7 linked regions of the Homo sapiens genome follow. The protein of the gene in region 2 purifies or fractionates together with the protein of the main gene of each other region. This does not show direct contact. Each region holds a gene or a part of one and is shown on either strand. Other genes may lie near its edges. The genes, in order: TBC1D9B, FPR1, IPO11, INTS1, ERAP1, FADS1 and EXOC2.

Evidence for each region.
Region 1: the proteins of FPR1 (region 2) and TBC1D9B purify together in Homo sapiens (co-immunoprecipitation; 2 studies listed by BioGRID and IntAct, with this or other methods). This does not show direct contact.
Region 3: the proteins of FPR1 (region 2) and IPO11 purify together in Homo sapiens (co-immunoprecipitation; 2 studies listed by BioGRID and IntAct, with this or other methods). This does not show direct contact.
Region 4: the proteins of FPR1 (region 2) and INTS1 purify together in Homo sapiens (co-immunoprecipitation; 2 studies listed by BioGRID and IntAct, with this or other methods). This does not show direct contact.
Region 5: the proteins of FPR1 (region 2) and ERAP1 purify together in Homo sapiens (co-immunoprecipitation; 2 studies listed by BioGRID and IntAct, with this or other methods). This does not show direct contact.
Region 6: the proteins of FPR1 (region 2) and FADS1 purify together in Homo sapiens (co-immunoprecipitation; 2 studies listed by BioGRID and IntAct, with this or other methods). This does not show direct contact.
Region 7: the proteins of FPR1 (region 2) and EXOC2 purify together in Homo sapiens (co-immunoprecipitation; 2 studies listed by BioGRID and IntAct, with this or other methods). This does not show direct contact.

The regions. Positions count from the first base shown.
Region 1 is NC_000005.10:179,873,398-179,876,897, reverse strand, and holds part of TBC1D9B (TBC1 domain family member 9B), read left to right. Parts: intron 1-860; coding exon 861-978; intron 979-1,710; coding exon 1,711-1,996; intron 1,997-3,500. UniProt on the Homo sapiens protein: May act as a GTPase-activating protein for Rab family protein(s).
Region 2 is NC_000019.10:51,749,079-51,753,054, reverse strand, and holds the start of FPR1 (fMet-Leu-Phe receptor), read left to right. Parts: upstream 1-1,176; 5' UTR 1,177-1,241; intron 1,242-2,801; exon of another isoform or gene 2,802-2,852; intron 2,853-3,976. UniProt on the Homo sapiens protein: High affinity receptor for N-formyl-methionyl peptides (fMLP), which are powerful neutrophil chemotactic factors. Binding of fMLP to the receptor stimulates intracellular calcium mobilization and superoxide anion release.
Region 3 is NC_000005.10:62,625,763-62,629,082, forward strand, and holds the end of IPO11 (importin-11), read left to right. Parts: intron 1-1,391; coding exon 1,392-1,556; 3' UTR 1,557-2,820; downstream 2,821-3,320. UniProt on the Homo sapiens protein: Functions in nuclear protein import as nuclear transport receptor. Serves as receptor for nuclear localization signals (NLS) in cargo substrates.
Region 4 is NC_000007.14:1,494,390-1,497,889, reverse strand, and holds part of INTS1 (integrator complex subunit 1), read left to right. Parts: intron 1-575; coding exon 576-752; intron 753-1,625; coding exon 1,626-1,734; intron 1,735-2,336; coding exon 2,337-2,457; intron 2,458-2,996; coding exon 2,997-3,074; intron 3,075-3,500. UniProt on the Homo sapiens protein: Component of the integrator complex, a multiprotein complex that terminates RNA polymerase II (Pol II) transcription in the promoter-proximal region of genes.
Region 5 is NC_000005.10:96,801,446-96,804,945, forward strand, and holds part of ERAP1 (endoplasmic reticulum aminopeptidase 1 isoform b precursor), read right to left. Parts: intron 2,499-3,500; 5' UTR 2,482-2,498; coding exon 1,958-2,481; intron 1-1,957. UniProt on the Homo sapiens protein: Aminopeptidase that plays a central role in peptide trimming, a step required for the generation of most HLA class I-binding peptides.
Region 6 is NC_000011.10:61,810,504-61,814,003, reverse strand, and holds part of FADS1 (acyl-CoA (8-3)-desaturase), read left to right. Parts: intron 1-435; exon of another isoform or gene 436-650; coding exon 651-761; intron 762-1,335; coding exon 1,336-1,533; intron 1,534-2,928; coding exon 2,929-3,030; intron 3,031-3,124; coding exon 3,125-3,253; intron 3,254-3,500.
Region 7 is NC_000006.12:627,140-630,639, reverse strand, and holds part of EXOC2 (exocyst complex component 2), read left to right. Parts: intron 1-678; coding exon 679-805; intron 806-3,500. UniProt on the Homo sapiens protein: Component of the exocyst complex involved in the docking of exocytic vesicles with fusion sites on the plasma membrane.

The sequences.
Region 1 (3,500 bases), on a different chromosome or scaffold from region 2:
GGTCTCACTGTGTGGCCCAGGCTGGTCTTGAACTCCTGGGCTCAAGTGATCCGACCTCCTCAGCCTCCTAAAGTGCTAGGATTACAAAGTGTGAGCTACTGTGGCCTGGCCTATTTTTAATTTTTTGAGGAACTCCATACTTCCTCCCCAGCAGCTGCACCATTTTATATTCCCACCAGCAGTTCACAAGGGTTCCGATTTCTCCACATCCTCATCAACACTTGCTATATTCTGTTGTTGTTAGAGTGATGGGCATGAGGGTATCTAATTGTACTTTAGGTTAGCATTTCTCGCAGCTTTTGATTTTAAATCTAGGCATTTTCCTGGCCAAGTCATATGGCTTTCTGTTTGCCTTAAAGGTCTTGTTAGCAGCTAGGGCTGTGTGTGGTCCTAGTTGTGCACCGAGTGGGTGGCCTTGGTGTGGGGCTCTGGCCTTGTGGCTCACCTCCACATCAGCTTGGTCATAATCCCACCTCCAACACCCAACACCACTCCGCAGAAGTGTGATGTGTTGATGTTCACCTTCTCTGGTTTCCCAGTGCCTTCTGACCCAGTTTGAAGGAGTTGGCAGACTCTCTGTTCCATCAGTTTCCTACAAATTGCCTTTTGACATTTCCCAGAGTTGGGTAGGGGCAGTTTCTCATTACCGGATGCCCAGCCCTCCTGAAGAGGCAGATTTGCTTGTAGGAGGAGGCCATTAATCTTCACCACGAGAACCTGAAAAATAATAAAAATAACAACAACAAAAAGAAGATCATGTGGGCCCTTGCAGGGAGGGGTGGCTGGGAGGGGTGGGGAGAGACAGTTTTATTTGCTGGCCAGCAGTGCAAGCCTTCCCCGGCTGTCTCTGTGCCCGGCAGGCAATGAACATCGTGACCTCGGTGCTCCTGCTCTATGGCAGTGAGGAGGAGGCCTTCTGGCTCCTGGTGGCCCTGTGCGAGCGCATGCTGCCCGACTACTACAACACCAGGGTGGTGGGTGAGTGTCCCCGGGTGCTGCCTCGCCTGGGTCTCCAGGTGCCTGCTGGTTCCATGAGGGTGGCAGCCCTTCCCAGGCCAAGCTCCAGGCTTCACGTGGGTTCCCTAGGAGTTAGAGGGTAGTATTACACATTCGGTGGTTTATAAAAGTCCCCTCAGAGCCTAAATTCCTATCCATCTAACTTCCTGTCAACTTTTTGATTATGGAAAATTTCAAACATCAAAACTAGAGAGTATATATCCCCCATGTAACCTGATGCTCAACTTTACTGAACTCATATCCAGTGAAATCTGTTATGAAGTGGAAATGGACTTGCAAGAGTGTTTAATTAGGTTCATATTTAAGCATGTTATCCTGTCCTTCCCCTGCTGTCTGGTGTTTGGAGTTACCGCTCTTGGGGTCCTTCAGAGCTGCGTCTATTCACAATCATCAGGATGGGACAGAGTCATTGAGGGTGCTGTTTACCTCTCATGCCTTACGGAGAAATCAGTATTTCCCCAAAATAAAATTCAAGTGTAGTAGAAGAAATAGTTATTTCGCCCAGTGGTTTGGGAGCTGTAGAGAGACTTGAAGGGTTTTTTCGTCCTTGTTTTCTCCCAGCACTCCAAGTCTCCCTCAGCCCTCACTGCACAGCTGGCAGGGCTGGAGTGGCCAGGGCTCGTACGCTGCAGGTGAGGGCCCACCCAGGCCACAGGGTGGGCTCACCATCAGCCTCGCTCATCCTGCCCGCAGGAGCCCTGGTGGACCAAGGCATCTTCGAAGAGCTCACGAGAGACTTCCTGCCGCAGCTCTCGGAGAAGATGCAGGACCTGGGGGTGATCTCCAGCATCTCGCTGTCCTGGTTCCTGACCCTCTTCCTCAGCGTCATGCCCTTCGAGAGCGCCGTGGTCATCGTCGACTGCTTTTTCTATGAGGGCATCAAGGTGATCCTGCAGGTGGCCCTGGCCGTCCTGGACGCCAACATGGAGCAGCTGCTGGGCTGCAGCGACGAGGGCGAGGCCATGACCATGCTGGGCAGGTGACATGCCGGGTTCCTTCTCCTGCTGGGGGCTCACAGCAGAACCCCTCACCAGCCCCGGGCACTGTCCAGTCAGCCTGAAGTGACTGTGCCCACCAAGTGCCAGGCTGCAGCTGGACCCGGGGGTGCTCTGGGGTCAGGAGGCGGCTCCTTTCTAGTGGGAGATGAAGCAGCGCTCAGTGATAGGTGCCAGGAGGAGTAAAGCAGGCACTGCGGGCAGAGCATGCTGGCTGGAGGGCCACCGCTCAGATGTAGGGTTGGAGATGCTTCCCCTGAGGGCAAACCAGAGCCAAGATCCAGTGACCACAATTCCAGTTGGTGGCACAGCTGGGCATTTCATGTCCACCAGGTGGTCCCGGTCATACCTCTCCAAGCTCAGCTGCATTGCAGCCCCCATGCCCTGGAGGGAGCAGGCCTGCCCTGGGCCCGCTGGAACAGCTGGATGAGCTGATGTCCCACTAGTCACGCCAAATGTCCAGGGTCATCCCAGCCCCTCCACCCCCTCCTTAGTCCCCACATCCCATCTCTTGCAGATTCTGTCTGGGATCCAGCCCCTTCCCTTCAGCCTGCTGCCTCAGCCCAGGCCCACCATGCCCTTTCCCTGGGGTTCCCCTCTCAGTCTTTGACCTGCCTGCATCCCATGACTCTGATCAGACCTGGCCCTGCCCCTTCCCTGGGTCCTCTGTACAAAGGCACTGTCTGAGCCTCCAGCCTGGCCTTCAAGCCCCGGCCCCTCCTGGCTACACTCTGCCCTGCCCTGAGCTCTGTGCAGTCCCACCCTCCTACATAGCGTATTTGTCCGGACTGGAATGCCCCCAGCCCCCAGGAACAGCCTGGGACTCTGCCACTTGCCCATGGCCAGGCCAGGTGCTGCCTGGGACTCTCTAGATCCAGCAGGGTTGTCACCTCCCTACTGTGGGCCTAAGTAGCTTTTGGTCCACACTGATGTTAAGATACTCAGCCTGTGGCCGGAGTCTGTGGCTGGTTTTCCTGCCGCTTCCTACAATAGGCGGATAGGGCCTCCTCCAGAGCAGGGGTCTGACTGGGGATATGACCAGGGCTATGGGCATGGGGAGTCAGCTACCTCCTCCCACCTGAGTGTCAGGCTCAGCCCAGGGACCCAGAGAGGCCATGAACTCTGGCGGGGCTAGGTCAGCTGACAGAGGTAGGGCTCCATCCCCAGGACTGTGTCCCTAGAGAAGCTGATTCCCTGGGCTGCAGCAGGCCTCCCCACACCTGACTTTCTCCTGCGACTCAACCTTTGATCCCTGAATCTTCTTGGCCAGGGCGAGAAGGTCCCACATCCCCAGGGCCCCGCCAAAGGGAGGAAGCTCGTCATCCTTCCAACTGGGTAGGATCTGGGGTTATAAGGCGTTCCTGCCCAAGGGACCCCCCCACTGACTAAGAAAACAGCCCAGCGTCCTCAGGGTTAGTGCTCAGGCCTTGTCGGGGGCACTGCCCTGTAGAGGGCTCCCCAACTTGCTGGGGGCGCTGCCAGGGCACA
Region 2 (3,976 bases):
TGTAGTTCTTGATGATATTTTCCAGATATAACCTAACCTAGTATTACCCTCTTGCAAAATTCTTGTAAAGTAAACCATAAATTTCGTCTTGGTTCTAAGCTAAGCTTGTCCAGCCCATGGCCTAAGATGGCTTTGAATGCAGCCCAACACAAATTCATAAACTTTCTTAAAACATTATCAGATTTTTGGGGGATTTTTTTTTTTTTTTTTTTTTTTAGCTCATCAGGTATCGTTAGTGTTAGTGTATTTTATGTGTGGCCCAAGACAATTCTTCTTCTTCCAGTGTGGCCCAGGGAAGGCAAAAGATTGGACACCCCTTGTTGAAGCCATTGTTAGGTGTAATTGTAAATTATAAATTACTTAGAATTAAAAACAGCCCGGCTCATGCCTGTAATCCCAGCATTTGGGGAGGCTGAGGCAGGAGGATCACTAAACCCAGGGGTCTGAGACATGCCTGGGCAACGTAGCAGGATACTGTCTCTAAAAGAAAAGAAAAAACAGTCTTAATGCAACAATGCCTTGGTAATAATGCTTTTAGAATCAGTGTCGTTATCTCTGATTCTGTAACTGTCTTACCATATTTCTCCATATCACTCTGATACCCTTGGAAGGATGCTTAACATTTCAGAAAAACGGTTATTTCTTTGGGCTAGAAGACTACAAATGAGCTTCCACAAGATCAGAGGATTATGGGGTTAATCTTGGTGGTGTGCATGGGTGTGGACGCGCTGTCCTGCCAACTGTCTCAACTTCCCCCACTCCCTTACCTCTCTCTGTGTTTCTGGTCTCCATCCCTCATGACTTCTTCTCTTCCTTTCATTGCCTCCCTCTGATTCTTCTCACCACAGTGCTTGCTGCTTTCTTTACCTTGACCCTTGGAGGGAGCAGGGGCCCGGACACTTGGATTTCTTGGCCCTTGTTGTTGAGAGCACTGAACCTCTGCATCCCACAGAGACTGAGGCTGAGAAATACAGTCAGGTACATGAGTTTCTAAACAGGCCCAGCCCACTGTCCTAATGCCATTAAAGCAGACAGTATATTGGTGTATTCTTGGGGCCATCAAAAATCAGAAGAAGCTCAGACTTCCTATTTCCTGCTACCCAGCTGGTTTTAGTTCCTTTACCCCTCCTCCTGTTCCTTGGTGTATGTTTTGCTGCAATCATTAGAGCCTGAGTCACTCTCCCCAGGAGACCCAGACCTAGAACTACCCAGAGCAAGACCACAGCTGGTGAACAGTCCAGGTAAGAAACATATTCTGGGGGACTGGGTAGCTTGACATAGACACACTTAATACACTGGTGAACACAATAGACTCTTTGTTTGAAGAAGGATGTGGAGTTGAAGAATAATTTTTTTAAAGAGGTTCTAAACAGGCCGGGCACGGTGACTCATGCTTGTAATCCCAGCACTTTGGGAGGCCAAGGCAGGTGGATAACTTGAGGTCAGGAGTTCGAGACCAGCCTGGCCAACATGTTGAAACCTCACTTCTATTAAAAATACAAAAATTAGCCAGGCGTGGTGGTGGGCGTCTGTAATTCAAGCTACTTGGGAGGCTGAGGCAGGAGAATTGCTTGAATCTGGGAGGTGGAGGTTGCAGTGAGCTCAGATTGCACCACTGTACTCCAGCCTAGGTGACAGAGTGAGACTCCATCTCAAATAAATAAGTAAATAAATAAATAAACAAATAGGCTCTAGACTTTATTGGGGTCCTGATGGGAATGATGGAATATAGAGACACTATGAGGCTGCAGGAGAGAGAAGGGATAAGTGAAGGAGGGAAGTTCTTGAGTAAATGGGGGAATGAGTTTTATGGGACCAGTAGAGGGTAATTCTTGGATGGAAACACTTGTTTTCTGGTTACAGAGATGAGGGCAGAGAACAGTGATGCAGGAGCCAGCAGGAGGAGAATCTGGTGGAGCAAGAGGCAAGGGCATCAGCTTGAGGGCTTGAGTCGGGATGGGAAAGGATGTTTGGTTTGAAGCTTTCAGGAGAAAGCAAAAGAGCCCTAACGACTTTATGATGGGTCATGGGGAAATGAGTGTAATACAGAAGCAGTCACCTTTCGGATCAGTGATGAGTCTCCACGTGAAGACACTGGTTCTGCATGGTGCATAGGACCCAGTAGCGGAATACAGCCCTGCCCTCTCATGAATCTGCAGACATTGGCTGTCATTTCTCATCAAGCTCCTAGTTTCCTCTTCCGTCACACAGGGATGATGATGTATAATCAATGCTGAGTTTGTTGAGATCAGAGGCAAGAAAGTTGAGGATGTGGTACAATGATTATCAAGCATAAAGTCCTTCATCGATGGCAGCCACCAAGGCCTGTGTTCATTGCAAATCACAGGATTTTTCCCTTGAACCATAATTGGACAAAATTGCACAGGTTTTCCTCTCTGGTATGTTCCAGCTCATTATTGCAGAATCCTCATCATTCATTGCAACAATCTTCTGAACTGGTTGCCTTAGAGATTCTTGAGGACAAAGAGTCCTCAGGGTATTTTGGTGGTTGGATGGGTGGTAGGGGAGGGAGACATCTCTGAGTTGTTTCTGAGATTGTAGAGTATCAAAGTTCATTAGAAATGTGAGACACATATGTAATTTCAAAGTGTCAAGTAGGCACTTTAAAAAGGTGAAGAGAAACATGCGAACTTAATTTTAATAAAATATCTAACCTAAACTTAAATAGCCAAATTATTATCATTTTAACATGTAGTCAATATAAAAACTATTAATGAGATGGTCACAATATTTTTTTCATACTAAGTCTTTGAAATCTGATGGGTATTTTACTCCTACAGCCTGTCTCCAGTTGGACTAGCCACAATTCAAGTGCTTGAAAACCACATGTGGTGAGTGACTAGTGCATTAGACAGCTCTTCTGTGCCAGTAGCGTGGCAGGGCAGAGGCAGAAAGAGACTTTTGCTGGAATTCGACAGCCTGGGCTGTTGGGTGACTTTAAGGAATTAACTGAAATGCTCTAAGTCGCACTTTCCTCGTCTGCAAAATGGGTACCATAAAGACAGTGACCCTCATAGTAACAATTTTGAGGAAGGCTGCTGCAAGCATTAGAAGAGAAGACCAGGCCGGGCGCAGTGGCTCACACCTGTAATCCTAGCACTTTGGGAGGCTGAGGCAGGTGGACTGCCTGAGCTCAAGAGTTTGAGACCAGCCTGGGCAACATGGTGAAACCCCATGTCTACTAAAATACAATTAAAAAGAAAAATTAGCCAGGCACGGCGGCGTGCACCTGAAATCCCAGCTACTCAGGAGGCTGAGACAGGAGAATTGCTTGAACCTGGGAGGCGGAGGTTGCAGTGAGCTCAGATCACGCCACTGCACTCCAGCCTGGGTGATAGAGAGAGACTCCATCTCAAAATAAATAAATAAATAAAATAAAATAAATTAAAAAAAAGAGAGAAGGCCAGCTCTCAGCAAGAACCTGACATGCACTTTGCATACCTGATCTAATGAAATGTCATATCCAATACATATTTGGACTATTATTTCTATCACGGTCTTCTACATCCCCAAGAGTGCTGAGCCCATCCAATGGATGGAGAAGCACCTCCCATCCATCTGGCCAAGGTAACCGCAGAGACGAGAGTGGAAACAGAGTCTGTTGTTCTGACTTCTTCTAGCACAGAATCCATTGGATATAATACTTGATTATACGTCGTTTAGTATCACTCACGGATCCATTTGACCTATGTTGGAAAACTAACCAAGTACTATGCCTTGCTTCCCACGATGAGAGAGGAAAGGGAGATTTCATGACCTTAAAGAGAGAGAGCGAGCAGAATTTGGAGTGGAGAAGTTGCATATCTTTTTTTTTTTTTTGAAACGGAGTCTCGCTCTGTCGCCCAGGCTGGAGTGCAATGGCGCAGTCTCTGCTCACTGCAACCTCCGCCTCCCACGTTCAAGTGATTCTCCTGCCTCAGCCTCTGGAGTAGCTGGGACTAAAAGCACCCACCGC
Region 3 (3,320 bases), on a different chromosome or scaffold from region 2:
GCTGCTTAGAAATTCTATTATTAGACACTTATATAAGCTAATACATAAGATGAGATGTCAGTTGTAGAGTGGTTTGTCCTTATACCAAATGGCCACAGAGGGGTATACTTTTCTAATTGCTGAGTCCATTTTTTAGAGTAATCTTCTTAATTTGGAATACTTTTAGGTTTACAGGAAAGTAACAAAAATAGTACAAAGAGTTCCCATGTGCCCCTCACCCAGTTTTTCCTAATGTTAACATTGTATGTTACATTTTTCTTTCCTCTTCTTTTTCTTTTTTTTTTCGAGACGGAGTCTCGCTCTGTCACCCAGGCTGGAGTGCAATGGCACGATCTCAGCTCACTGCAACCTCCGCATCCCAGATTCAGGCGATTCTCCTGCCTCAGCCTCCCAAGTAGCTGGGACTACAGGCGTGCACCACCACGCCAGGCTAATTTTTGTATTTTCAGTAGAGACGGGGTTTCACCATATTGGCCAGGCTGGTCTCGAACTCCTGACCTTGTGATCTGCCTGCCTCAGCCTCCTAAAGTGCTGGGATTACAGGCATGAGCCACCGAGCCTGGCCCTACATTTTCCAAATATACATGGTACATTTATCAAAATTAAGAAACCAACATCGGTGCATTATTATTAAGTAAACTCCAGACTTTTATTTAGATTTTACCAGTTTTTCCGGTAACACTCTTGGTTGCAGGATTCAATCGGGTATATCACACATTGCACTTAGCCTGGGTCCAGGTGTGTTTTATGTATATGTATGTATGTGCATACCACAGGGATAGAAGAAGCCAAAATATTTTCTTTTGTCATTGTTATCTTTAAGGAGTGGACTTCTGGGTTATTTTTCATGAAATTACACTCCTTTTGTTTTCCAAATATCCCAGTGGGAGACGAGGAGTCCCTTTTTTTTTTTTTTCAGCCAGAAGCATATACAGGAATTTAAATAGTATTGCAATCCAGGGTAGGGCAAACACTGTCTCCTTTCTCGATCCTGAGGGCATCACTGGGTTGCCACAGTGGCCTACCCTACCCTATCTTCCTAAGGAGAATGCTGGACAATTGTATTTAAATGTTCTTCAGCATGTTCTGTTTCTTTTAGAATGCTTTCTACTAGGCTTTGATGCTTTAAATGAATGAGTCCCCCAGCTCTTGAGAAATGCCTGATCAGAAAACATGTTCAGGGGGCGCTAGGGAACTGAAGTTAAGACTAATTGAATGAAATTTTCTTTGACAGATTTTTCCACCATGAGATTAGTACAGAATCTGTGTGAGAAGAGAGGCAGAAGCAATTTTGTTACTGTAGAAGAGATTACAAAGAACTTTTGTAAATTGCAGGTAGGAGAGACTTGTTTTGCTTTTTTGACAGTCTTGCTCCTCTCTGTATCCCACAGCTGGCCCTGAAGGACCCTGTTCATACAGTGTCACTGCAGCAGTTCATCTACGAGAAGCTCAAGGCACAGCAGGAGATGCTAGGAGAACAAGGTTTCCAGTCCCTCATGGAAACAGTGGATACGGAGATTGTCACCCAGCTACAGGAGTTTTTGCAAGGATTCTAAGAGCACATGACATGTGGCTGCCTCCCCTTTCAGAAACAAGCTGAGTAACCCAGCCTGCCGTTTGTATGTGAGAGCCTGCTGAGATGAAGAAATCACTTCATGAAAATAAGCAAAGACCACACATTTTTTACTACAAAATGTAAAGGATAAATGTAAATCCTGCATAACTAAAATCACAAACCTATTCCTCAAAAGAATTTAATTTTATATTTATGAGGGGGCCCTTCACTAAAAAGTACATGTAAAAGTACATTTGATGACAATAGCTGCTTAGTTTCCTGTTAAGAGAAGAAACTTTATCTTTTAATTATGTGCTCTTAATATTTGAAGATGAGAGTTAATACCTGAGATGTTTTTCTGCAACCAAAATTCATTAAATTTGGCTGCCTTATCCTTTTTTTAAGCTAATGAAACTACAGGTTTGAAAAATGACAAAGCTGTTCAGATGATGCTATTAAAGAAATGTGTGTACTAAGCAAAAATATATAAATAGTGACAAATACACATTACCAAGCTTATCTTGCAAGGGAGTTATTTTCATCTAACATAGAAAGTGTGTTTTATCAGACAAATGCTTTTATTTTCATTCTAATAATTTGATACAGAAATTAGTAAAGGCATTTTTTTCTTTTTTTTTCCAGTAAATACATTGGGTCTATAAATGTGCATTTGTAAGGGCCACAAAAGTGAACGTGTGGTACTGTAGTACCACGTGGGAGACCTCTGGTTATGGTTTAGTCCTAGTTCCTTTGTTACTCCTGTGAGCACCGAGAAGAACTGGGCGACTCCCAGTCCCACCTGTGCTGTGACAGTCCCACGTGGCTATGACAGACTGTTTAGTACTTACCCTTCTCAGGTTCCTCAGTGCAGGGGTGCATCAGGGCCTCAATAATAGGGGTATACCTGGGAGGATCCAGCAGTAATCCCCAGGGTACTAGGATTACTAGTACTCTGATGGAACTAGTCTTCCTTCCTTATTCCTCGAACATGCAGTACATAAAAAGGGGAAAAGGAGAAAAAAAAAGCCTTACTTTGTTTTACTTGCCATTTATTGTAAGGAAACTTTAAAGCATTTTTTAGGAAATACTCAAAAGCAAGGTTGGAAAATGTTTTATCTTTCTATAGAAAGTTGGGTACAGTATGTAACTGCGGGAAACCCACTGCCCCTTTGTAAGCTGTGGAACCCAAACTGTATGGGGATATTTGATGTTTTCAGAAAGAGGAAGAAAATATGGTCCAAATTAAATTTTCCAAAGATACCTCACCTTGGACTGATTTGTCTGACTACTTTTCTTGCTCCCCCCAAAAAATGAGTTCTTAAAAATTGCCCAGTGACTTATAGAGAATTTTCTTTTATACTCTAGCTTTGATTCTGTGCTAGTAGGTATCAGTATTGCAGGTGGCAAATCCTAGTTACCCTTTTAATTTATCTTCATTTAAAGACAAAAAGCTCCTTTCAAGTGATATTTCTTTATCAGTATTACTCAGTCCTGAAGACTGATCCAAGAAGAATTTCTTTTTGTTGACTTAATTATTTTCATTTGAAACACTAACTCATTAGTGTTATCAGAAATTCTCAAACATGCTCATTTTTCAGTTATAGTAAAGTACTCATCCTTCTAATTCCTGACAGATTTCATTATAGTGCCATACCAAATATTACTGAAATAGCTACCTTGCAAAAGAAGTAAAAAGCTTATCTCAGGGAAAGAGTTTGCTTCATTTTTAAAACTCACAAGTTTAAATAGGCTTGGTAAATAGCTC
Region 4 (3,500 bases), on a different chromosome or scaffold from region 2:
GTCCCTGTAGCCCTGGCTGTAGGACCCTTGGATTTCCGTGTCTCCTTTGAAGCGGGCTCGGGAGATGCTCCCATCGCCACCAGCGCATTAGGCCTCCCGGTGGGCTCTATGGAGTGTGAAACACGAGGGAGGCACAGCCGCTCTCAGCTCCGCGTTCAGTCTTCGCGGCCTGGCATTTTGAGACAGGAGTGCGTCCTTTCAGATCCTTTCAGATCTTGGGTGGTGGCCTTTGGTTTCCGTTCAGCCCGTGGCGCACGGGTGGGCTGAGATGGCACACGCGCTTCTATGGCTTTGCCGCCTGGTGTCCCGCACCCCCAGCTTCCGTTAATTAATCCTCCTCATTTCACGAGGACCGACTCCCCACCTGCCGGTTCTCAGAGAGGGGAATCAGATGTGATCCCTGCTCGCCAAGGGCTGGCAGCCAGTAGAGCAAGGAGCCCGCCACCCCGCACCCCACACTGTCTGAGACCCACTGCAGCGCCCTCGGGCGCCATACCTGTTGGTGCTGCGGGAAGGGGCCTGTGACAGGGACAGCACTGTCGGGCAGCCTCCCACGCGGCCTCTCTCTGCCCCAGTTCCTGGCCATGGTGTTCCAGGACCTGCTGACCAACAAGGACGACTACCTGCGGGCCTCGCGGGCCCTGCTGCGGGAGATCATCAAGCAGACCAAGCACGAGATCAACTTCCAGGCCTTCTGCCTGGGGCTCATGCAGGAGCGCAAGGAGCCGCAGTACCTGGAGATGGAGTTCAAGGTGCCAGCCCTCGCCGCTGGGGCGCCTTTCCCTCACTGCGGGTTCCACGCGCCGCCATCCCCCTCGTCCTGGGTCCCATGCACACTCCACCCCTTCGGATGCTCTGGCTGAGCGTGGGTACGGGGATGAGTGAGGCTGTTTGCGGTGACGCGTCCCAGAGGGTAGCATAGGCTCTGTCCTGTGTGAGGACCTATGAGGGGCTGACCAAGCACAGGGGAACTGGCAACCCCTAGGCTGGATGGGATGAATTGCTGCCGGCAGCAAGGGGAGCACGGGAGCAGGGAGGCAGGGTGGGGCTGCGGGCTGCCTGGCTGGGTTGGAGACTTTTCGAGGGCTGTGGAGGGAGCTGGCGCTGGAAGGCACAGTGAGGGTGGATCACAGAGATGCCAGGTCCCTGCAGCCAACTCGCAGCCAGCCTGCCGGGGTGGCCTGTTTTGCGGACGGGGCTTTGTGGATCTCTGTTGACTGAACCTCCCTCCTGTGGCCAGACTAGGACCTTGTGGGCCACCGGCCCTGGTGCCCCTCCTGTCAGGCCCCTCTCCCAACTGGTCCTGGGCTCTCTCTCTGGATCCCTGCTTGTGTGTGTGTATGTGTGCGCATGTGCAAGTGTGTGCGTGCTGCACCCACGTGTTTGTGGAGTGGGGCTCCCGGGTGTCCCTTCTGGATACAGACCCCGTGCCGCGCCCACGTGGGTGTGGAGTGGGGCTCCCGGGTGTCCCTTCTGGATACAGACCCCGTGCCGCGCCCACGTGGGTGTGGAGTGGGGCTCCCGGGTGTCCCTTCTGGATACAGACCCCGTGCCGCGCCCACGTGGGTGTGGAGTGGGGCTCCCGGGTGTCCCTTCTGGATACAGACCCCGTGCTGCACCTGCAGGAGCGCTTCGTGGTGCACATCACCGACGTCCTGGCCGTGTCCATGATGCTGGGCATCACAGCGCAGGTGAAGGAGGCCGGCATCGCCTGGGACAAAGGAGAAAAGAGGAGTAAGGATGTGGGGGTGGCCTGGCCCTGCTTGGTGGGGGTCTCGGGTCCAGGCTGGTGGCTGGCGGCTCTCCGAGGCTGCACTGTCCCCTGAGCGCCCGGCAGGAGCGGTCCCGCAGCACGGCTACTCGGGGACACGGAGCCTGGAAGCTGCCGTCCCCGTTCCTGTCCATCCGGGCCTCACCCCAGCTGCAGGCTCAGACCCTGTTCCCATGAGCGTCCTTTGTGTGCTCCAGTTCTGGCCCAGCATGGGGGCATTGCAGGCGTGGTGGCCCCAGCCACGGGCGGGAGTGGGGAGGGGAGGTGGTGTTTGGGGCAGTCCGGGTGTTTGATTATGGGTTCACAGGAAGGCTGGGCCGCAGAAGCCCTCTAAGCCATTGACCGGAGCGAGTCACTCGGAACAGGAGGATTCCAGTCACCCACGCACGCGTCAGGGTCACTCCATGCCTCCCAGGGTGTTATTCCAGCTGGGAATCGTCCAGAAGCTGGGGGTGCCCTGAGTTACCCCCTCCCAAGTGCCAGCATTGAGTTGGACCCCCAGGGGTGCCTTAGCCCCTCATGGCCCATGGCTCGGATGGGCCACTAAGCTGCGTGTCTGTTTCAGACCTGGAAGTGCTCCGCTCATTCCAGAACCAGATTGCCGCCATCCAGCGGGATGCCGTCTGGTGGCTCCACACTGTGGTCCCCTCCATCAGCAAGCTCGCCCCTAAGGACTACGTGCACTGGTGCGGCTGGGGCCCTGTACAGCCCCTGTCCCACACCCCACTGAGCCGGGACAAGCCGGGGCCCCGCACAACCCCTGCCCCAAACCCCACTGAGCCAGGACAAGCCAGGCCCCGCACAGCCCCTGCCCCACACCCCACTAAGCCGGGACAAGCCAGGCCCCCACACGGGAGTCTGTCCCCTCTCTGCGGACAGCAGCAGCCGTTAGGCTCCAGGCAGGTCACCCTGTGCATTGGAGCCTCCCGTGGAGCCTCTGCCTTGGTTGGGGTGGGGCTGCCAGGCTGGGGCTGCATTTCTCTGCAGCGATTTTGTAAAGGGCTGTCCAGCCCGGCAGCCCCGTTCGGCCGCTGTGCAGCCTGGCAGCCCCGTGAGTGGTCCCTGGGTTCTTTGGTGGTGCTGTGAGGAGGTGCTGAGCTTGGGCACCAGGCAGCCCGGCCTCTGAGCGCTGGGGCCCGTGGGAGCGGGGTCCCTTCCCTGGAACTAACGGGGCTGGTCCCTGAGCACCCACATCATGACTGAGGGCTCTTCTCTGCCTGCCCAGCCTGCACAAGGTGCTGTTCACAGAGCAGCCGGAGACCTACTACAAGTGGGACAACTGGCCACCCGAGAGTGACCGCAAGTGAGTGCGCTGCCGCCTGGGGCTCCTGTGTGCCGGGCTGGGCGGGGCTGCGGGGTGCCGGGCCGGCTGCGGCAGGAAGGGCCAGTGGGAGTTGGGCGGCTGTTCCCATGGTCACAGCACCATCCTGCTCCTCCTCCACAATCCTGGGTGCCACCCTTCTCCCACTCCCATGCTGGCGTCCCAGCGCCACTGTAGGGATTCAGCTGCCGTCTGCGTCCACGTGACTCCAAGCCCCAGCCGCAGCCTCCCCCGGACCCCCGCCTTCCAGTTGCTTCCAGGGCGTCCACGGGCACGCCACCCTTCACGCAGTCTCAGATGCACCGTCTGCCCCTGCTTCTGTCCAGACAGCCGCACACTGTCCTTCCCCAGCCGGCTGGCCTCACAGCTCTGTCCCCCTTCAAGCCCCATGGGTGACCCCGTGGGTTC
Region 5 (3,500 bases), on a different chromosome or scaffold from region 2:
AGACCCTGTCTCGGGAAGAAAAAAAAAAAAGTTAAAAAGAAAAAGTAAAAAACAGGGAAAATTCATTTAAGAAGTATGTGAGGAAAACTTAATAGCCTTAACAGATAGTGAGATCCTAAAAATATGTAATCCTAAAAATGGCTCATACCTGTAATCTTGGCACTTTGAGAGGCCTAGGCGGGCGGATCACGAGGACAGGAGTTCGAGACCACCCTGGCCAACATGGTGAAACCCCATCTCTACTAAAAATACAAAAATTAGCTGGGTGTGGTGGTGCGCGTCTGTAATCCCAGCTACTCAGGAGGCTGAGGCAGGAGAATTGCTTGAACCCGGGAGGCGGAGGTTGCGGTGAGCCGAGTTCGCGCCACTGCACTCCAGCCTGGGTGACAGAGCAAGACTCCGTCTCGACAAAAAAAAAAAAAAAAAAAAAAAAAAAATCCCCAACAACCAAGGGAATCTCAGGCAAAGTCAAAGGTCATTAACAGGCAATTCATAAAAGAAGAACCTATAAATCATTAACAAACATATCAAAAGCTGCTCAACTTCCTTAATCAAAGTTACGTAAATTAAAAAGAGATCATTTATTTGGGGACCTTTTTTGCTCTAAAAAGACTGCCAATATACACTATTGGTGAGGGGTAAGAAAAAATGACAAAGTTTATCAAAAATTTATAGGCTCTTTGGCTTACCAATTTTACTTCTAGGCATTTATTCTAAAGAAATAATTTACAAAAATGCTCATCAAAGTGTTGTTGATACTGAAAAATTGGAAACAATTTCATTTCCATTCCCGAGGGATTAAAGATATTAATGTACAACTATGTATTTTAATAAAATCATTAAAAAGATGTCTAGTAATAGTCATTTATATAAAACATCTTCCCAACATATTAAGTTAAAAAATTTCCTTGTAAAAGAGAAAATATAAGAATTCTATTTATATAAAATAATATATATGCATATCCAGAAAGAAGTCTGGCAGAATATTCCAGTGAAATAGAAGTAGTGGTCAGTTCAGGGGGCTATGAGTGAAATAAATTTTACTTTCTTACCTTGATAAAATAATATGGAATTTGAAAAATAAATTAGTATAATCTACCAACAAATAAAATTCCATTTTAAAACTGAGCATAAAATCTCCCCCAAATAAGTCTCCTCCTTAAAAACAGAACCAAAGCAAGGTGAGAAGAGATCTCTAAAAAAGTTTTAACTGAGATAAAAGTATTTCCTCTAATATGTTGCTAGTAGGATTTGCTGAAGTCCTAACCTGTAGTATCTGTGCATGTGACCTTATTTGGACATAGGGTCTTTACAAGTATCATGGAGTGAAGAAGAGGCCACCAGGCTGGGCCCTAATCTGGTATGTCTGGTTTCCTTATAAGAAGATGGAGACTGGGACATAGGAAAATAGAATGGCCATGCGACTAACAGAGGGAGAAACTAGAATGACGCAGGTGCTAGGCATGGAGTACCAGGGATCCACGGCCACCACTAGATGCTAGGAAGATATAAGGAAGGATTCTACCCAGAGTCTGGAGGGAGCACGGGCCTGCTGACACCTTGATTTCAGACTTCTAGCCTCCAGACCTGAGAGAGAATACATTTTGTTGTTTATAGCTACCCAGTCTGTGGTACTTTGTTACAACAGCCCTAGGAAACTAATACACAGTTCAGGAAAATTAAACATGTTTATTATGTCTCAGAAATCGAACCAAATAAACAAATAGATATTTACTCTGATAGAGCTGGGGGAAAGAAAATTGGTTAAAATAGAATTTTAAAATGAGATTTAAAAAGCAAGGGAAAAAGCCATTTTTAACACTATAAAGAAGATGCAAAAGCAAAACTGAAGAAAAAGTTCAACAGCAAAGGGAATTTTAAAAGACAATCAATCTGAAATAATGAATTTAGCGTGGGCAGCACTTGCAGTTTAAAAGAAAAAGAGAAAAAAAAATACCTCAGTTCCCCTTCCTTGGTTCTGTAGGTGCTTTTGTAAAATCCGTGGAAAGTCTCCGAAAGATTGCCAGCATAGTGAATGACAACTGTGTACGGGAGCCCGACAAGGAGGGGCTCGGGAGCCAGCAGTGCAATTTGCTCCTGACGGGGGTGTTCCAGGACCTGCAGGGGTTCTTCCGATAGCCTCTCTCCAGCTCCCTTCCTGAGGGTGGCCCTAGATATCTGCAGGTGGTGACTATGCAGGATGATGGTGCTGGTGGGCTGACTGGCTGTGATTTCTACTTTCGTGGTTCCCCAGAAGGTCAGCGTGGTAAGGTTTGCATGGATCAAGAGATCATAATGAACTGGGATGACGTACTCAGGAAGTCGTATTTTATTCCAAGGAAATGGTGTCCCATCACTACGTTTTGGAGATGCTTCAGTGCTCTGACACCATGAAGGAGTGGACACAGTTAAGAGAGCCAACAGTGAGGAAAGTAGAAATGACATGGTTGCAAGGGACCATTTGAGGGGCAGAAACACCATCTTCTTGCTCTACCTACCTAGCGGCACAAATGTACAAAAGCAAAAATATATGTCATTAAAATGTTATTGACACAGCATAATTTCAGAATGTATCCACCCAGCATTCACAGAAATAGGCATAAACTTCCAAAAGTACTAGGTCTTTTCCTGAAAGTAAAAGGACCTTCCCTATGTTATGGTTTCATATAAGAAAGATGTTTACAGTTAGCAACAATCATTAACACGTACTAGAAAGCATCATTTGATGTTCAAAGTTTAAATTAACTCTACCTGTCAGGGTTCTTGGTTGAAAGCAACCGAACAAGCTCTGGCTGATATAGGCAGAAAAGGAATCATTAGGGGATCCTGAGTGGCTCACTACACGGGTCACAGAGTTGCAGGACATTTGGGAAACCAGGCTCATGAAAGAAGCAAAACCAGAACCATATCAGAGGAACATCTGATCAAGCACCACTCCCCACTGACACTGGACCTTGGAGAAAGTCACCCTAGTACCCTGGAAATCAAATGCTGACACAGTGGCAGCCACCACTAGAACGAGGTCTCCACTTCCCCTGTAAGTATATGTAATGGTAACCTTTAATAACATCAGTGTCTTCCTCAAATTGTCATGCCAAAAGTTAATTACCTATTTATTTAGCCAGGAAGAGCTTAAAGAGCTTAATTTTCCCAGTAGTTTGTGGCAAACGTATCAATCACCTGGATTGATTTTAAAGACATAAAAGCAATGTGAATTTCAGGCCAGGCATGGTGGCTCACGCCTGTAATCCCAGCACTTTGGGAGGATGAGGTGGGCAGATCACAAGGTCAACAGATTGAGACCATCCTGGCCAACATGGCGAAATCCCGTCTCTACTAAAAATACAAAAATTAGCTGGGTGTGGTGGTGCGCACCTGTAGTCCTAATTACTTGGGAGGCTGAGGCAGGAGAATCGCTTGAACCTGGGAGGCAGAGTTGCAGTGAGCTGAGATTGCACCACTGCACTCCAGCCTGGCAACAGAGCAAGACTCTGTCTTTA
Region 6 (3,500 bases), on a different chromosome or scaffold from region 2:
GTGAGGGGGAGCAGCCTTTTTTTTTTTTTTTTTTTTTGAGACGGAGTCTCCCTGTCGCCCAGGCTGGAGTGCAGTGGCGCGATCTCGGCTCACTGCAGGCTCCGCCCTCCCCCGGGGTTCACGCCATTCTCCTGCCTCAGCCTCCCGAGTAGCTGGGACTACAGGCGCCCGCTACCTCGCCCGGCTAATTTTTTGTATTTTTAGTAGAGACGGGGTTTCACTGTGTTAGCCAGGATGGTCTCGATCTCCTGACCTCGTGATCCACCCGCCTTGGCCTCCCAAAGTGCTGGGATTACAGGCGTGAGCCACCGCGCCCGGCCGGGAGCAGCTTTTATTCCCTTATTTGTCCCTGCCCATGTCCTGCTGATTTGTCCATTTTATAGAGCACTGATTGGTCCATTTTACAGGGTGCTGATTGGTCCATTTTACCTCTAGCTAGCTAAAGAGCACGGATTGGTGCATTTTACAAACCTCTAGCTACAGAAAAGTTCTCCAAGTCTGCACTCGACCCAGGAAGTCCATCTGGCTTCACCTCTCACTTCAACTTGGGTACAGCCTTCTGGCGGGCAGGAGGATGGCCTTTGGTGCGAACACTGCCGGAGTCCAGGGGGCTGGCTCCCTCACCTTTCATCTTCTCCCGGCACTTGCAGGATCCCTTTGTGGCCTTCCACATCAACAAGGGCCTTGTGAAGAAGTATATGAACTCTCTCCTGATTGGAGAACTGTCTCCAGAGCAGCCCAGCTTTGAGCCCACCAAGAATGTAAGACCCTGTGTTTGCTATGTCGCAACTATTGGTTGTTGAGGGGGACAGAGAGGGGGTGGAAGGAGAGTCTAGATGGGATCACAGTCATAGTAATCACAGTCAGTAGTAGCTCTGGGGAGTCTTGAGGTCCCTGCTTCTCTTGCATAGTCATGAGGTCACAGGCCCAAGGGAGCATGGCTTTGCAACCTATGGCTCCCCCAAGGCTGCCACTACCATGGCTGCCATCATTGTTATCATCATTGTTATCATATGAGCACTTACTATGCACCAAGCATAAACTCATAACTCTTACACATTTACAGATGAGATAACAGGCTCAGGGAGGTTAAGCAACACAGCCAAGGATCACACAGTTAGTAAATGGCAGAGCAAGGACTTAGTCCCCTGAACTCTTAGGCACTATCCCATGGCACCTCCTCCTGTCATCCTCATTGTCGTGGTATCTTTGCCTAGGACTGTGGACTTCCCACAGCTACCTCAGTGGGAGGTCCTTGAGCCTGAGAGGGCCCTTGTCTCCAGTAGCATTGGGGTGCAGATGAGAAGAATAACAGCTCCTCTTCCTCTTCTGCAGAAAGAGCTGACAGATGAGTTCCGGGAGCTGCGGGCCACAGTGGAGCGGATGGGGCTCATGAAGGCCAACCATGTCTTCTTCCTGCTGTACCTGCTGCACATCTTGCTGCTGGATGGTGCAGCCTGGCTCACCCTTTGGGTCTTTGGGACGTCCTTTTTGCCCTTCCTCCTCTGTGCGGTGCTGCTCAGTGCAGTTCAGGTGAGAGCCTTTGGCTTGTCAAGTGCACAGCAATGCTCAGCATCCCTGGGGAAAGCTCCTTGGGTGTTTGAGGAAGGCCAAGAGTGCCTGCCCTCCAAGCAGGGCAGATCTGAAGGTATGCAGGAGTGAGTGCAGGAACATGCATTCTGCTGTCTTGACCTGTCTGCTCTTTAGCCACATGGACATCTTCATTTCTCTCACTGCCTTTTTAGCTGCTTCTCCAAGGGTTCTCTTCTTCCTATGCGGTTTGTTCTCTGCCACAGCCCACCTGTGCCAGGAGCCAAGTTTCTGGTTTCTTAGCAAAGCTTGGCTCCCTCCCCACCACTGACATTGCCCAATATGTTAATAATGATTGAGCGCTAATTCTTGACTGTCAGGACCCATTTGGCAAGCCTTCTGCTCATGTTTCAGTCCTTTCTGTATTCTAGATGTCAGTCCATCATAAGTCATGAGCTTCAGGCCAGGTGTGGTGACTCATGTCTGTAATCCTAGCACTTTGGGAGGCCAAGGTGGCCGGATCACTTGATCTCAGTTCAAGACCAGCCTGGCCAACGTGGTGAAACCTCTACTAAAAATACAAAAAGGCCAGGCACAGTGGCTCACGCCTGTAATACCAGTACCTTGGGAGGCCAAGATGGGCAGATCATTTGAGGTGAGGAGTTCAAGACCACCTGGCCAACATGGTGAAACCCCGTCTCTATTAAAATACAACAGTTAGCTGGGAGTGGTGGTGGGTGCCTGTAATCCCAGCTACATGGGAGGCTGAGGCAGGAGAATTGCTTGAACCTGGGAAGCGAAGGTTGCAGTGAGCCGAGTTGGCACCATTGCACTCCAGCCTGGGCAACAGAGCGACACTCTCAAAACAGGCCAGGTATGGTGGCTCACGCCTGTTATCCCAGCAGTTTGGGAGGCCAAGGTGGGCAGATCACCTGAGGTCAGGAGTTCGAGACCAGCCTGGCTAACATGGTGAAACCTCGACTCTTACTAAAAATACAAAAAAATCAGCCAGGCTTGGTGGCGGGCACCTGTAATCCCAGCTACTTGGGAGGCTGAGGCAGGAGAATTACTTGAACCCAGGAGGCGGAGGTTGCAGTGATCTGAAACCGCACCATTGCACTCCAGCCTGGGCAACAAGAACAAAACTGTCTCAAAAAAAAAAAGTCATGAGCTTCGGAGCTGGCGAAACAGAAGAACAGAGAAGGGATGGTGATTTGCCCCAACTCACGTGTGAGTCAGTGGCAGAGGCAGAACTAGGACCCATGTTTCCTGACTCCTGAGGTGCATCACAGGCCTTGGCAGATGAAGGAAGTGGGAGAGGCTGAAGGAGGCATCGAGGTCAGTGAAGGCGACACTGGGGCTGGTGGGCTGCTCTCAGTGTTGACTCTTCTCACCTAGGCCCAGGCTGGCTGGCTGCAGCATGACTTTGGGCACCTGTCGGTCTTCAGCACCTCAAAGTGGAACCATCTGCTACATCATTTTGTGATTGGCCACCTGAAGGTCAGTGGGATGGGGAGGAGCTCTCTAAAACTCCAGGCAATGAAGGGCTGCCTTGGGGGAAGCTTTTCATACTCGTGTCCCTGCTTTTCTGTAGGGGGCCCCCGCCAGTTGGTGGAACCACATGCACTTCCAGCACCATGCCAAGCCCAACTGCTTCCGCAAAGACCCAGACATCAACATGCATCCCTTCTTCTTTGCCTTGGGGAAGATCCTCTCTGTGGAGGTGCGTGGAGGTATCAGTGGAAAGGTCTTGGGGAATAGGAGGCAGCCAACATAGGGGAGTTGGGGAAGATGCCCACGATGTTGTCAGTGTGGGCAAGACACTGGGGCTGGGCTGGCTGGGGCTTTTGCCATTTTGGAAGTTCTGGAAGGCAACAGGCAATAGATGGGGGCTGCCCAGGAGGGAGTCACCATCCTCCCTAGAGAGTTCAGTCAGCAAACCGTTACTGCATAAAAGGCACCTCATTTTG
Region 7 (3,500 bases), on a different chromosome or scaffold from region 2:
TAAAAGATATTTCTTGAGAGCTTTCAAGAACCATTTAAAAAACATTTGGTTTTCATTTGTAGTGAAATGTCCTTAGGTAGCTTATGGAACCCAGAAGCAGAAACTCACAGTATTAAATATAAAATCATATATGCATAATGGTTTTTCGGCATTTATCATAAACCAGAAGCTTTCCACTGAGCTAACATTTTACTCGAATGTTTTGTGCTTGGATATTTCCCAGACATTTTCCAAGAGTTTACATGATTTCAGAATATTCTCTTGAATAAACAGATATTATAGGTCATATTATTTCATCTTACTGACTTTCTGAATTTTTTGTGCAGATTTAATCAGCTACATTTAACAATGTTTAATTGTAGTGTTTATTATTTGTAAAATATGTTTGTTATTGCAAAACTTTGTCTAAGCAGCTTAATTTGTCTTCTCTGTTGAGTAATGTACAATGAAACCATAAGCTGAGAGGTGTAATTTTTGCCTTTTTATAAATTTTTTTAGTGCTTATAATTAAACTACTAGTCATTTTTTAAAAATTTAGCTGTTATGTCCTCAAATCTCTTAAAGATTATCCAACAGGCATTTTGTATTAGGTCTTTAAGAAGTCAGACAATAGGCCAGACGTAGAAGGTGCCTGGGGTAGGCTTCATCTTATTAAGCATATGCTCCTCATTTCTGTAGGCATTTTGGATCAGTCTGCTGTGTGGGTTGATGAAATGAATTATTATGATATGCGCACTGACAGGAACAAAGGAATTCCGCCCTTGTCCTTACGTCCTGCTAACCCGCTTGGCATTGAGATTGAAAAGTGAGTACCATCTTGCTTTCAGTCTTCTTTATTTTTCAGTTCCTGAAAAGTTTTATATACTTACAGGAAAGGGACTCAAACTCCAGAAACATCCCAGGAAACACAGTTGAAGACACCTCAGTTGTTTGGAGATGGGTGTTATTTATGAAGCCTTGTTAGCTATGCTGCAAGTAAACTTTGCAGTTAGTTAAAACTTGTGGCTAAAACTACTTTTACCTCTTCAGTTTTTTGATTTTGCATTTTGTGAAAAAGAAAAGTCTTTAGTATGTTGTCTAGAGATGGTTAAGTTTAAATAGGTAGATGGCACCTGAAGTCAAAATAGCATACATAATCTGTTTTTTTGATTTTTCTAGAAGTATTTTAGAATAGCCAGGTCTAATCTGGTCTTTAATTTTGTCTATAATGTCTACTCATTCTTGCTTAATCCAGACTTATTTAACTTTAATCATCAGAATTCTGCCAGGTAAATGATATCTTTCAAGATGCCTTATAACTGAATCTAGAGTTTTTTTCTGAATTCCTAGTACAGTGTTTTAGTAACTTTTATAATTAGTGCCTTTCTACTTAAACAATTCACCTAATGTGTTAATCGCAGCTAATTTATCTTCTGGCCTTAGTGCTTCTGCTTATGGAATTGTATACTGAGTATTGCTCTGTAAACTCTTACCAAAAGTGACAAATTAGCACTGTTAATACTTTAACCATGGTTTTAGTTTAGGGTTTTCTAGGAATGGGGAAAATTCTCCAATAATCTCTCTATATATAATCTTCAAGCCTACTCTTGAAGATCATTAGTTTCATTTTCACCTGCTGGGGTTTGCCCCTGGCTGAGGGGAAGTAGCATGTTTGTCTTGGGAAAGTAGCACGTGTTGAAAAAGTCTGGGGCTTAGCAGCTTCACGTGAGCTTTGACTGTTCTAGGTAACATCTTTGAAACATTTTTGCAGTATGGGTCATTCTAGAGCCGTTTAAGGATTCCAGTGCCTCCAAAATTAAGAGTTCAAAGATTGAGAAGGTTTAGAAAATAATGGTAACAGTTGGGTATTTATTTGAGCACAGTTTTAAGCATGAATAGACTTGCAGTTGATAGTAAGCCCCTTATGGGTGCTTCAAGGCTCTGGAAAGCCAGTCTCTTTCCAACCTGCCTGAGAAGTGTGGAGCAGGAGGCCCTCTGAGCTGCTCTTCATAACCAAGAGCCAGTTTTATACATGGGCAAAAGGAATATGGAGATATACAAAATATATTTAGTATGAGACTTGGACAAAATTATCAGTTAGGGTTCATTCAGACGTTTACTATCATAAACGTGATTTCTTCAACTTCTGTTTTGGTGTTTACCCCCACCCCTGTTCTCTCTACCTCCCCACACCTTCTCAGCCTTTGAATCTCTTTATTATTCCTGTTGCTGCTGCCCACAGTGTGGTTTGGCCTGAACTGCGTCTAACAGCAGTGTTCCTAATAAGTGTCAGGTTAATTATTTGATGAGATTGGTAATGGCAGTGAAGAATAATGGCACTGAAAGTACTTAGCTTTCTTAAAATGTTCTTTTCTTCTCTGAGAGGTAGTTTGATTTTGTGTGGGGCAAAACTCTCTCAATTTGAACTTGGGCTGTGCCACTTACTAGCAATATGACATTGAGTAAGTTACTTAGATTCCTTTTGCCTCAGTTTCCTCAGGTGTACAATGCAGTACCTGTTCCTTAGGGTCGATGCGAGGAATCAGGAAGTGAGGAGGTAAACAACTTGGAGCATAGCAAGTGCCTCACAAGTGTTCATCCTTACAGGATTCTTTGCTCTTCTTGGATATATACTATTCATTGTTCTGCCACATAGGAAAAGTTTTTGTTTAATGACTTAAGATTCCAGGGTACTAAAGTGTTTTAAAATTTTAAAATAACATTATGTACATTTATCCAATAAGTACTTCAGTGGGAATAAAATTAACAGATTTTGATGTTACTGTACAGATTGTTACTTAAGTTTCAGAAATATTTGCTCAGCCATGGGATAAAGTAAAATATTAAAGGATAATTTTTGAAAAAGGGAAAATCATGATTCTTATACAAATATAAAATAAATAGATGTCAGAGCTTTTATTTAACTCATAATTAAGGAAAGAACCAATAAGATGTTAAATCCAGCCCAAAGGAAAGTCCAGAGGGGAGACATACGCAATGAGAAATGCCGAAAGATGCAAGACCGTCACTCCGTCTCGGAGGAGCCAGTGGTATCCTCACCTGATGTGCATTTCTGTGGACAGGAATCCCTGGCATCGCCATTAGCCCTCCACAAGCCAGCTCTGTCTTTCTAATAGAGACTCAGAATAGCCAATGATCAGAGAAAGGCGCGGATCCTGTAGCATCAGGGAACACGGGGAGGGCCCTTTAGGCCGTGAACAGACATCCAGTCATCCTTCTGTCCGTCTGAAAGTGTTTGGCAAAAGACTTTCAAAAGAAAGAGAGGCTAGATGTAGAGATTCCAGGAAGCAAGAAAATGAAAGATGAAAGTAAGAATAGGTGTAGAAACCAAGAGAAGATAATGCTTTTGGCCAGAAAAATGCTTTTCCAGGCTTCTTTTTTTTTTTTTTTTTTTTTGGATACTGTCAAGAAAGCTGTGTTTATCTTACTGAATTCTTTGACCTCTGTTAGATAAATCTTGTTTTAGAGAAAGATAAAAGGAAGGAAAGGCAGACTGTAGA